Linked DNA regions of Homo sapiens. The protein of the gene in region 1 purifies or fractionates together with the protein of each later gene. This does not show direct contact. Each region holds a gene or a part of one and is shown in the gene's direction. Other genes may lie near its edges.

Region 1 (3,648 bases):
CTATTCTGTTCCATTGGTGTATGTGCCTGTTTCTGTACCAGCACCATGCTGTTTAGCCCTGTAGTGTAGTTTGAAGTCGGGTAACGTGATGCCTCCAGCTTTGTTCTTTTTGCTTAGGATTGCTTTCGCTATTCAGGCTCTGTTTTGGTTCCATGTGATTTTTTTTTTTTTTTTTTGAGATGAAGTCTCACTCTGTTGCTCAGGCTGGAGTGCAATGGCGTGATCTTGGCTCACTGCAACCCCCGCCTCCCAGGTTCAAGCGATTCTCCTGCCTCAGCTTCCTGAGTAGCTGGGATTACAGGCGCGTGCCACCCCGCCCAACCAATTTTTGTATTTTTGGTAGCGACAGAGTTTCATCATGTTGGCCAGGCTAGCCTCTTAACTCCTGACCTCAGGTGATCTGCCCGCCTTGGCCTCCCAAAGTGCTGGGATTACAGGCATGAGCCACCGCGCTCGGCCCTGTGTGAATTTTAAAATGCTTTTTCCTTTATTAATGTGGTGACTCACATTGATTGATTTTTAGATGTGAAACCATTGCTGGAATAAACCTAAGTGATGATATGTCATTCCTTTTACATATCTGGATTAAGTTTGTTAGCATTTTGCTTAGGACATACTGTAGCTGTGTTCATGAAAGATACTGGCTTGTAATTTTCCTTTCTTTTGACATCCTTGTTAGGTTTCAGGGCCAAATTAGGTTAGCCTTGTCAGATGGGTTGGGGAGGGTTTGCTTTTTTTCTGGCGCTGCGATTGTGTAACATTTGAAATTATTTGTTTTTAGACTATTTGGTAGAACTTCTTGATAAAGTCATTGGGACCTGAAGTTTTCTTTGTGAGAAGATGGATTTTCTATAAAATGTCATTAATGGTTATAGGAGTGTTTAGGTTTTCAGATAATTCATTCATTAGTTTTGAATAAATTTCCTATGACTTTTTACATAGTTAAATTTCAGATTATTATAAATTATTGATAATATTTTTAAGTATGTTAATTGCAGATATTTGTCTCATTTGCAGTTAATTTCCTTTTTTTTCAAATATTGTTTGTTTATAAGTTTTAGCTCTTGGAAAATCTTGTCAGAAGTTTTTCACTTTTATTATGTTTTTTCAAAGAATAGTTTTGGTTTTGTTGACCTTAGATATATGCTTATTTTCAGTCTTTATTAATTTCTGCCCTTTATTATTTTCTCATTTTACCTTTCTTTGGATTTAATTTGTAGTTCTTTTTATAGTTTCTTTTTTTTTTTTTTTTTGAGACGGAGTCTTGCTTTGTCACCCAGGCTGGAGTGCAATGGTGCCATCTCAGCTCGCTGCAACCTCTGCCTCCCATGTTCCAGCGATTCTCATGCCTCAGCCTCCCGAGTAGTTGGGACTATAGGCACGCACCACCATGCCTGGCTAATTTTTGTATTTTTAGTAGAGATGGGGTTTCACCATGTTAACCAGGCTGGTCTCCACCTCCTGACCTCAGGTGATTGACCTGCCTTGGCCTCTCAAAGTGCTAGGATTATAGGTGTGAGCCACCACGACCAGCCCCCGCAACCTTTTTTTTTTTTTTTTTGAGACAGGGTCTCACTCTGTTGCCCAGCCTGGAGTGCAGTGGTGTGATCACGGTTCACTGCAGCCTCGACCTCCCAGGCTCAAGCAATCTTCCCACCTCAGCCTCCTAAATAGCTGGGACTACGGAGGTGTGCCACTATGCCCAGCTAATTTTTGTGTTTTTTGTGGAGATGGGATTTTGCCATGTTGCTCAAGCTGGTTTTGAACTCCTGGGCTCACTGTGCCCAGCCTATAAGGAACTCTTATAATATAGAGGTAGATTTTATTCATTATTAATTTGATAAGGTTTTAAATCTGGTCTAACAGTCCTTGTCTTTAAGCTGGAACATTTAGTCTATTTTTATTCATTGTTATTACTAATCTAGTTGGATTATTTCTCCTGACTTACTTTGTTTTTTTGTGTTTGTTTTTCCTATCCTGGTTTTCCTTTCCATTATTTTTTCTCATTACATTATTCCCCTTTACTATTTGGAAATTATATACACTATTTGTTTTTTTAAAAGTTGTTACTCTAGAAATTGTAAAATGCAAGTGTAAAATTTATTCATGTCCAGCTTCTACTCCTGACCATCACAAGGCTATTAGAACACTAATCCCAGTGATTGCTCACCTCCCATTTATGTTATTATTTTTGTGTATTTAGTTTTTTAAAAACCTCATTCTTTTTACTGTGGTATTAAAAACTTTTTTTTAAAGATAGAAGCATTTCTTCTGATTTTTACTGTTTTATACAGTTAACTTGGATTTAACCACATATTTACCAACTTTTTTTGCTCTTTATTCTACCCTGCATTTTAGACCTTCCAACTTGTATCCCTTTCTTTCTTCCTGAACTATATGCTTTGGAATTTCCTTTAGGGAGCACCTGCTGGTCACTTGCTCTTTCAGTTTTTTGTTGTTTGGAAATGTTTTTGTCTTATCCTCAGTCTTCAGCTCGTTATAGAATTCTCTGTTGAGACACCCGCTCCCAGCATAGAAGATATGTTTCCACTGTGACCGGCTTCCATTGTTGCCATTGTGATGGCAGCCGGCAGTCTACTTGTTGCTCTTTAGAAGTCATCTGACTTTTTCTTTGATTGTGTTTAATCTCTGGTATTGTGTGGTTTTATTAGGATGAGCCTAGGTGGATATTTTAGAGTTTATTCTGCTTGAGATTTGATGGGATCACAATGACAGTGATTCGTATCATTTGTCCCCACTGCCAAGCCTCGGTGATACCTCATCCCCTTTTGTAGGATCCCTTCAGGAGACTGCTTTCTGGACTCTTTGCCTCCCATTTCTTTCCTCTACACCTCCATGATGCCAAAGAGGATAATCTCCCTAAAACACAGCTAGGCAACACCATGTTCCTGCTTCAAGACCCTTAGTTTGTAGAGATCCTTCATTTGCAGGATAGAAGTCCATTGTTTTTAGCCTAGCACATTCTAACCCTGTGCCCAGAACAACCACTGGCAAATACGGGGGTGCTAAGTACATCGACATGGAATGGCCCTAGTGATAGGAAATAAAGTTGATGACAGGCTGGATTTGAGGTTTAAGGAGAGGAGGACCAGAGTTCGATGCTCAGGTGTGTGGTATGATTGTGTGGACTGCACCGTCCACACCAGATGATTTGCAAAGAGAAGGACTTGGGAGAGGAAAGGGGCTAAGGAGGTGGAAGGAGAGGATGAGTCTAACGTAGGCTTTGTTGAGGTGCAGATTTGGTGAGATGGAGGATATTTTTCTAGCAGGCAGTTGGAGGGACTGGTTATGAGATGGCGCATTTTCCCAGCCCTGAGGTCCAGTTGAGGATGCTGTTAAAGAACAGCACTGGCTGGGCGTGGTGGCTCACACTGTAATCCCACCACTTTGGGAGGCTGAGGCAGGTGGATCGCCTGAGGTCAGGAGTTCGAGGCCAGCCTGGCCAACATGGTGAAACCCGTCTCTACTAAAAATACGAAAATTAGTCAGGCACGGTGGTGGGCGCCTGTAGTTCCAGCTACTTGGGAGGCTGAGCCAGGAGAATCACTGGAACCCGGGAGGCAGAGGTTGTAGTGAGCCGAGATCACGCCACTGCACTCCAGCCTGGGCAACAGAGTGAGACTCCAT
Region 2 (4,185 bases), on another chromosome or scaffold:
TTTAGACCAATCTGCACATAAAGAAATAGCCATCAAGATTTAGATTCCAAATTTTCACTCATGCCATTGAAGGACGTTCAGTTGCCTCAAAATTCAGAAAACCAACACTTGCCTCTGTTGGACAAAGGAGGAGACAAAAGTGCAGAGAAGCCATTGAATCATTTAATAGTCTTCATAAATTATGAACCAAAGTTTCATATAGTCTGAAATGTAAGGAAGGAAGTCACTGACAACCATGGATAAAATCCAATTCCTTACAATAAAACAGCACTGAAATTTGCAAATGATCAACCAGATTGAGAAAGCCCTGATGGATATAATGGGCTAGAATGACCAATTACCTCAATGTACTTCCAGGAGAAGCAGACTCAAGTGTTTAGGTGTCATAATCATTAGTAACTTAGGCTGAGCAGGATGATTATATCTACAATAATACATTACACCAGCTCTTTTTCCCCAGGGGCATCAATATGCTAATGAGAAAACTAATGAACAAACTTCATTTAGGTTTAATGTCTCTAAGAATGAAATTTCACAGATTTCAAGTTTTCTTATGAACGGTTTAATAAAAATATATTTCCAAGGTACCCTTCCAAACTTTACTGAGGAGGCAGTCCCCAATCTGTAGGAAAACCATCATAAGACCCGGGAGACAAATGTAAAAATTTTTCCCACCTGCATTTTTAGAGAAGAAACTAACCAATTCTTTACAGCTCTCTCATTGCCCTAGAATTGAAGCAACTGCTTCTGGCAGGGCTTATGAGCAGCTCACCATGGACTGTCACATCCCATGGAGAAATTAATTGGTTTTCATCACTTTATTTCAAAGTTTCTGCTTAATCCCAAACTAGAGATTGTATCTTTTATAAAGCAAATGGCTTAGAGTTTACTCCTTTGTAATGAAGTAATAATCAATTAAGATTGTGAACATTTAATACCTTTGTTTTATTATTTAATTTACTTTTAACAATTTAAGAAAATTGGAGATTCTGCCAAATATTCTACCCTCCCATGTTAGGTGGGGCTGGTACCCTGACTGTCAGGAGGCAAGGTCTGTGAACCTCGTGCCAAATAGCTACGTGAGCAAATAGTGAGATAAACAAGCCATTTGTGGAGACAGAGGTGGAGCTGGGCTTGGTTAGGAATGAATCAGGCCATCCCACAGAGTGGGTGTCTCCTTCCCAAGTTGCTTTCCAGGGCACAATTAAAACCCCTATAAAAGGCCCAGCTCCCAGTTACCCAGTACACTTGCCTGTGGTGTCAGCAAGCACTGTCGACTTCTTCCTCTGGTGAAGTGGGTAAGTCCCATTCTGTGGGATCGTGGTCTTCTTTATGATTCTCCATTTTTATAGCTATTTCAGATGTTGGGATATGGGGGGAGGTTCCATGTGCCAGAAGGTATCAGTATTTTGCAGGGATAAATAAACTATCACTAACTCTATCCCATCTTCTTATGGTTGGAGCCATCACTTGAACTGAAGCATGACCCTTCTCCTTGGGCTCTGAACTCTATACTTCTGCACATCAAGGATGATCATGTGTGGCTCTGATAGGGTTCATCTTCCTAAAAACTGCTATCTCAAAAGTTTGCCAGCCTTCTGTTCTCTTTTACATTGGTTCTACCTAATATGGGCCATCTTCATACAGTCACAGCATTTAAGGTACTGGAGTTGAGAAGTACATAAAGAAGTCAGCTAGATGAACGACTACACTTATCCCACCAGCAAAGCCATTCCATGTATTCTTATAACATTGATCTACTGCTGGCTAATGTTTTATAAAAAGCCAAGATTCCAATGATGCATTTGGGTTTAACAAAACCAATATCATTCACAGTTTTCTGGATTCCGTTTGGTTTAGAAAGGACCTCTCAGAAGCTTTCAATACTTCAATATCCGAATATCTTACTATATCTGAGTTGAGGCAGGTAATATACAGTCTCTGTTTTCTGCATTTGTGTATCTGAATGTTACAATGCCATCTTTTGACTAGGAAGAAGTACTATTTAATCTTAGAATTGCTGACTTACAAATTATATTCTATAAGAGTTCCTAAATCCTTTATGGACTGTAATGTTGAGGAATCATTCATATTCCCTTTTCATTGTTCTATTTTCTACCAACTGTTTTGCTGACATGGCCTCTATCCACTTTAAGATACTCTCAAGTCTTCCTTCACCTTTTGGCTTTTACCTGTCCTCTTCGCTCAACTTTAAAGGAAGGTGTGTAGACATATATAAAATTTTAATTTCTGCACTCTTCTCTTAATTTTCTACTCTGAAATACGGTGGAGAGCTGGAAGAAAGACAGAAGAAAAGGGCATAGATAATCCACATTGGGTGGACAATCAAAAGCTGACAACAGGATAGTCTGAAGATGATTCCCTGGCTTGGAATTTCTCAGGATCGCTCTTTCTCTTTCTGATACAATATTCAAATATTAAAGTGCTCTGAAAGTCCAGGTTGAAATTACCGCTATAAATTCAAATTATTTAGGGATCTGCCTGAAATAGTGTGAATGAAGCCTTCCCAAAAGCAGAAACGGGATTTTGATTCTGGATCTTATTTTATTGTTCTAGGTTTACTTGAACTTGAAGGAAAGAAAAAAAAATGTCTCCACTTCTGAGAAGCATCTGTGACATCACTGAAATTTTCAATCAGTATGTCTCTCATGATTGTGATGGAGCAGCATTAACTAAGAAAGACCTGAAGAACCTCCTTGAAAGGGAATTTGGAGCTGTGCTTCGGGTAAGAACTAACAAGAAAATGAGATCTATTGACTTGAGGCTATGAGATTTATTCTCAGAGGAGACCAGAGCAAGGAATGGTGGTTTTATATTCATTTTACACCACAACAGGTCTACACTACATCCCCCATTCATTTCTGAGTCAAAAGGTACTTACTTGACATTGTAGTCTGAATAATAAAGTATTTCATGTACTTGATGGCATGGCCATGTGAATGAGCTCTTCATGGGACATTACCACAAAAGATGTCAAATCACACTAGACTTGGAGGAACTTAAATTTGTTTCCAAATTTCAAAACTGAGATCAGCCTGATCTCTATTAAAATGGTGCTACCCGTAAATGTTTTGTTCTGTTTTCTAATATGGAATAGAAACCAAATCAAGAATACTGGCTGCTTCAGACAGAAATGGCTACTGCAAATCCTCATAAATTTCTATTGTATCTCTCTCAAGGATGAGTTCATTCTTTCTCAATTAAAGCGAACTTGTGTTATTCTTTCTTGATGTTGAGTAGCTTTGTTAATTTTACACACAAGTTCACGATGCTGTTTTGAATCTTCACCTCAGGCTCTGCCTCTAAGGTGCGTAGGCTTACCTGCTATTCTACTTTGTGTCTCTCTTCCTGCTTCCTTAGGTTTGATCAGCACTAAATTACGAGATGTAAAAATTTCAAACGAATATATGCTTTAAAGTGAGGGTTCACATTTTACATGGGGACAAAACTTGATACACACTGGACATTTTTCTAATTGCTCTGAATGTCTCTTGAATGTCAGCATAGCATAAAATATATCATGTGTGAATATAATTTTACCACCTGTAAATAGTGCATTGTAAAATTTTTGTTTTCACCATTTTTATAGAGACCACATGACCCTAAGACGGTAGATCTGATCCTGGAACTTCTGGATCTTGACAGTAATGGGCGTGTCGATTTCAACGAATTCCTCCTATTTATTTTCAAAGTGGCTCAAGCTTGTTACTATGCTCTCGGCCAGGCCACGGGACTGGATGAGGAGAAGCGAGCCCGGTGTGACGGAAAGGAGAGCCTGTTACAAGATCGCAGGCAAGAAGAAGACCAAAGGAGATTCGAGCCCCGGGACAGACAACTGGAAGAAGAACCTGGGCAACGACGCAGGCAGAAGAGGCAGGAACAGGAGAGGGAGCTAGCTGAGGGAGAGGAGCAAAGTGAGAAACAAGAGCGACTTGAACAGCGCGACAGGCAGCGCCGCGACGAGGAGCTGTGGCGGCAAAGGCAAGAATGGCAAGAACGGGAAGAGCGCCGTGCAGAGGAAGAGCAGCTGCAGAGTTGCAAAGGTCACGAAACTGAGGAGTTTCCAGACGAAGAGCAACTGCGAAGGCGGGAGCTGCTGGAGCTGAGGAGGAAGGGCCGCGAGGAGAAACAGCAGCAAAGGCGAGAGCGGCAAGACAGAGTGTT
Region 3 (4,232 bases), on another chromosome or scaffold:
CTCGGCTCACTGCAACCTCCGCCTCCCAGATTCAAGCAATTCTCCTGCCTCAGCTTCCCAAGTAGCTGGGATTACAGGCGCCTGCCACCATGCCCAGCTAATTTTTGTATTTTTAGTAGAGACGAGGTGGGCCAGGCTGGTCTCGAACTCCTGACCTCAAGTGATCCACCCGCCTCGGCCTCCCAGAGTGCTGAGATTACAGGCGTGAGCCGCCGCACCCGGCCGCAATCTGTCTTAACAAACACTCTAGGGGATTCTGATGCTCACCAAAGTGTGAAAAACACTGCATTAGACAGTGCTTGGAGAGCACCTGATAACCATTCCTTTAGGAACAAATTCCCCTCCTATTAAACACATTATTCTTTGGATCTGTTAACATATTTTGCAAAACTTCTGGAGCCTGAGCAGCAGGATTTTGTCAATACCCCACATTTAGTGTACCAATAGGTCCTATCTTGATTTTAATGGTCCTGCCCTAAAACCAACCAACCAGCCAACTACCCACCGATTCCTCTACTGGGGACAACCTTTTTCACCTTTATAACTTCTGCTTATTCACAACATCTAATTATTCATGGCCTCTGCTACTTCATGGCTTCTTTTGTGCACCTTTTCAGCTTCTGATCCTGATACCAACTGAACAACTGTCTACGTCAAACTTGTTTAACTCCCTGTTTAACATTAAGAGATTTTTTTTTTCGCAACTCTTTTCCTTTAGGTCATCAGCTATCATTAGTGTATTTTATGTATGGCCCAACACAATTCTTCTTCCTGGGGAAGCCAAAAGATTGGACACCCCTGCTCTAAATCTCAGTTTAAACTCCTGAGAGACACATATTGTTGGTGAAATCGCAAACTGGTACAATTTAGGAGGGTAATTTGGCATCATTTATCAAAACTACAAAAACATGGCCTTTGCCCCAATAAGTCCGCTTTTAGGCATTTATCCTACAGATACACATGGGCGTGTGCACCAAAAAGTGGGGTCTCTCTCTCTCCCTTAGCTCGGCCAGAAGCCAGGTCACCTACCCTCGGTCACTCGGGGGCCAGGACCTCTCTCCCTGCCCCTCAGTCAAGGCCCTCTCAGTCCGGGAGGCGCTTCACACCTGGGCAGGGTGGGACTGGGCGCGCCTCACTTCACGCTTTCGTCGGTTGGAAGCAGGTGGGGAAGTCCCCGCGGCCTCGGCGTCTCGCACGCCTGGCCCCAACACCTGCCGAAGCCGGCTGCGACTCCATTTTTCTTTTTTTTTTTCCTCCTGGGAAACGGAGGACCCGCGCCGCCACGAAGCACAGCGACCCCGGCCCTGACCCCAGCCGCCCGCCGCCGGTGGGCGGGGCTTGGCGGCCCGGCGGGGCGGGGCTCGGGGCGGGGCCGGCGTGGCGGTGGCCCGGGTTGTAGCCGCCGCCGCTGCCGCCGCCCCGCCGCCGCCACCTCAGAAGCAGGAACCGAAGTCGTCGCCGCCGCCGCCACTGCCTGGGTCTTCGGTCGGGGCCCGCAGCCATGGAGGATTTCATCGTGATCTCGGACGACAGCGGCTCTGAGAGCTCCGGGGGCGCCCGCCCGGGCCGGTCGCGGAGGCCGCGCCGGGCCCTGTCGCGAACCTCCGGCGCGCTGCCCCGCCGGACCGTGGTGAGTGAGCGTCGCCTCGTTTGGGGGCGCGCGTCTTCGCGACCCTCGGCTGGGCCCGCCGCCCGCTTCCCGCCCCTGGCGCCTCACAGCTGCAGCCACTTCCCGCCTTGCCTCCTTCCGGGCCTCTCGGGCCCCGGGGAGCGCGGCGGGCCGGGGCAGGGGCCAGGGCAGGGACCGGGGAGGCCGGGCCTCCCAGGCTCAGCGCTGAAGCCCGAGAGGACTGCGGCTGGAAAGCGGCCGAGCACATGGACGAGCTCCTGGCGCGCCTGCTGCAGGGGCTGGGGTCTCAGGCCGGGGCCGCGGGCGTCCTCGGAGCCTCGGCGGGACGTGGGGGCTCGGGTGTACTGGCCGGGCCGATGCAGGAAAGCGGGAGCGCGTAATTCTTCGGCCTGTGGTGGACACAGATGTGTGCAGGGAGGTAACAGGAGCCCAGGCTGGGAGGGAGGGAAGCGCGGGCCTGGGCCAGATGGTGGCCGCGCTCCAGGGCCTGACTGCAGAGCGAGGGGCCCGATTTTGGAGTTGTACAGGAGGGCGATTTATTTCCTCAGCACTTACCCTGTACCAAGCCCTGAAGGAATAGGGAAGGAAACCTCGCGCGCTATTTCTGTTTCCCTCAGAACCCCTTCGTCTTTGTCGTTCATGAGGTGGTGAATTATCTGCCTTTCGAGAATCCTGCATCGATGTTTATTGAATCCCTACTATGAGCCAGATGTTGTAGGGGCCGGGGATACAACGGCGAACACAATATCCATGGTCCCCTCAGAAGGTGATACATCATCAGGTGGTTGTTGAGGACCTACTCAAGCGGTGGGAGGTGGAGCTTTCTCTCAGAAGGCTTCCAACGATCTCCCCAGCCTCCCAGAGCCATCCCCCGGAAACACAAGGATTATCAAGCTGATGTTATGTGTATAGATCATACAGTTTACCATGCTTCCTATGCAAATACTCGTTCAAGACGTTTCCTAGCTTCTGCTGCCCCTGTTCCCTTTCTAGCTGGTTTACAGTCCCTAAACCTCCATTGGGAACCCCTTCTGTGCCCGAGGTACAGTGCCAAGTGCTAGATGATCACTATAGAATGAATAGCATGCAAAACTAGTTAATATATATTATTTTTCAAGCAAGAGGGTTTCTCAGGACGTCTTAGAGACAAATTTAGTTGAGTTAGGCAGCTCATGAGGTAGTGAGAGAAGAGATTTCCAAGATAGAAATGACCCGACTTCATGAGTGAATGGATATATCTAGGGCTGTGGCTGAATGTATCGGACATAATAGATGCACAATAAGTATTTGTTGGATGAAGGAACGATTGAAAGAATATGGGGAGAGAGAATGGTTTAGATGGATGTTTGATAAGTATAAGAGAAGTGCATATAAAAGTAGCAGCAGGCTTGAGATGAAGGAGATGCTGAATTCAGGTTGGACCTGTTGGATTTACAGTGTTAATAGGAAATGTAGATGGATGTGGCCAGCTCAGTAGTTGGAGAAAAGGCAAGAATGGAGATATTTGGCAATCATGCAAACAGAAAGGAGTATTGAAGGCCTAATAGTGACTGAGATCATCAAGGAAAAGAGTAGAGAGAGAAAAAAGGTGGAAGGGAAAAAATACTTCTTTCCTCCTAGTTCCTCCTCATTCCTATAGCCTCTTCTCTCACTACCTGTTTAACTTTGTCCTTCCCACTTGCTTCCTTTCCTCCCAAGTGTTGTCCATTTTCCCTCATTCTGGTCCAGCTTCCTTCTTCAGTGGTCAGATGCCATGCTTATCTCAGTCTTTTGTGGTCTTTCACATACGTACATGGGCGTAGTCTCTCACTGTTTCCCTCACTTGTGACCACTCAAGCAAGCATTTTGATCTTGAGCCTTTGAGTTGAATCGAAATGAGGGGCAAGTTCCAGAGAGCAGTACCCAATTTAAATCGTGCTTCTCCAGATATTTATTCCAGCTCTCTAAAAGCTCCAAGCTTATTCTCGTTTTATCTTTTTTGCAAATTAGATAAGAGTGGTATGATAACCATGTAAAAGATCAGAGGCATTGAGAGACTTGCAAGGTTATAAAGTCTAAAAGTGCCCTTTTCTTTGTAGCTTTTCCTGAAGGCTCTGAGGTCAGAGAGACTTCTGAATCAATATCTCCAGCATAGCAACTATTTGAGTTTTGGAAAGTTCTGTCAACTCTCAGCTTTTGAGCCTGAGAACATTAATGCCTACCTAGCAGGATGGTTTTAAATTTTTAATGAGACAAATGCAAGGAAAGGATCTCATATAAATGATAGCTTTTGCCACTTTTTGTGTTGTTTCTAAGCCCAGGCCTGTCCCTCTTGAGCTTCACAGGCAATGAAATAAAAGAAGCAACTTTTACATCTTTTTTTTTTTTTTTTAATAGATATTGACTAAGGGGAAGTAACTTGCTTGAACTTGAGAAAGCCATGTCTAATGCTGAAGTTGACATTTCTGAACTCTTGATTCTTAACCTGGGCTTTAGTCTTCACTGAGTCGATGAGGTGTGTTTCTGTGTTTATCATGGCTTTTTCGTTTGGGATTTTTTGTTTTTCGTTTTTTTACTTATAAAAACAGAACATTTTCAGATGGTTAATTTTGTTGATCTAATT

Evidence for each region.
Region 2: the proteins of NSMCE1 (region 1) and TCHH purify together in Homo sapiens (affinity purification with mass spectrometry; one large-scale study listed by BioGRID and IntAct). This does not show direct contact.
Region 3: the proteins of NSMCE1 (region 1) and SIMC1 purify together in Homo sapiens (affinity purification with mass spectrometry; 3 studies listed by BioGRID and IntAct, with this or other methods). This does not show direct contact.

What each region holds. Positions count from the first base shown.
Region 1 is NC_000016.10:27,258,772-27,262,419, reverse strand, and holds part of NSMCE1 (non-structural maintenance of chromosomes element 1 homolog), read left to right. Parts: intron 1-3,648. UniProt on the Homo sapiens protein: RING-type zinc finger-containing E3 ubiquitin ligase that assembles with melanoma antigen protein (MAGE) to catalyze the direct transfer of ubiquitin from E2 ubiquitin-conjugating enzyme to a specific substrate.
Region 2 is NC_000001.11:152,112,504-152,116,688, reverse strand, and holds the start of TCHH (trichohyalin), read left to right. Parts: upstream 1-1,244; 5' UTR 1,245-1,298; intron 1,299-2,577; 5' UTR 2,578-2,608; coding exon 2,609-2,746; intron 2,747-3,610; coding exon 3,611-4,185. UniProt on the Homo sapiens protein: Intermediate filament-associated protein that associates in regular arrays with keratin intermediate filaments (KIF) of the inner root sheath cells of the hair follicle and the granular layer of the epidermis.
Region 3 is NC_000005.10:176,237,008-176,241,239, forward strand, and holds the start of SIMC1 (SUMO-interacting motif-containing protein 1), read left to right. Parts: upstream 1-1,416; 5' UTR 1,417-1,501; coding exon 1,502-1,630; intron 1,631-4,232.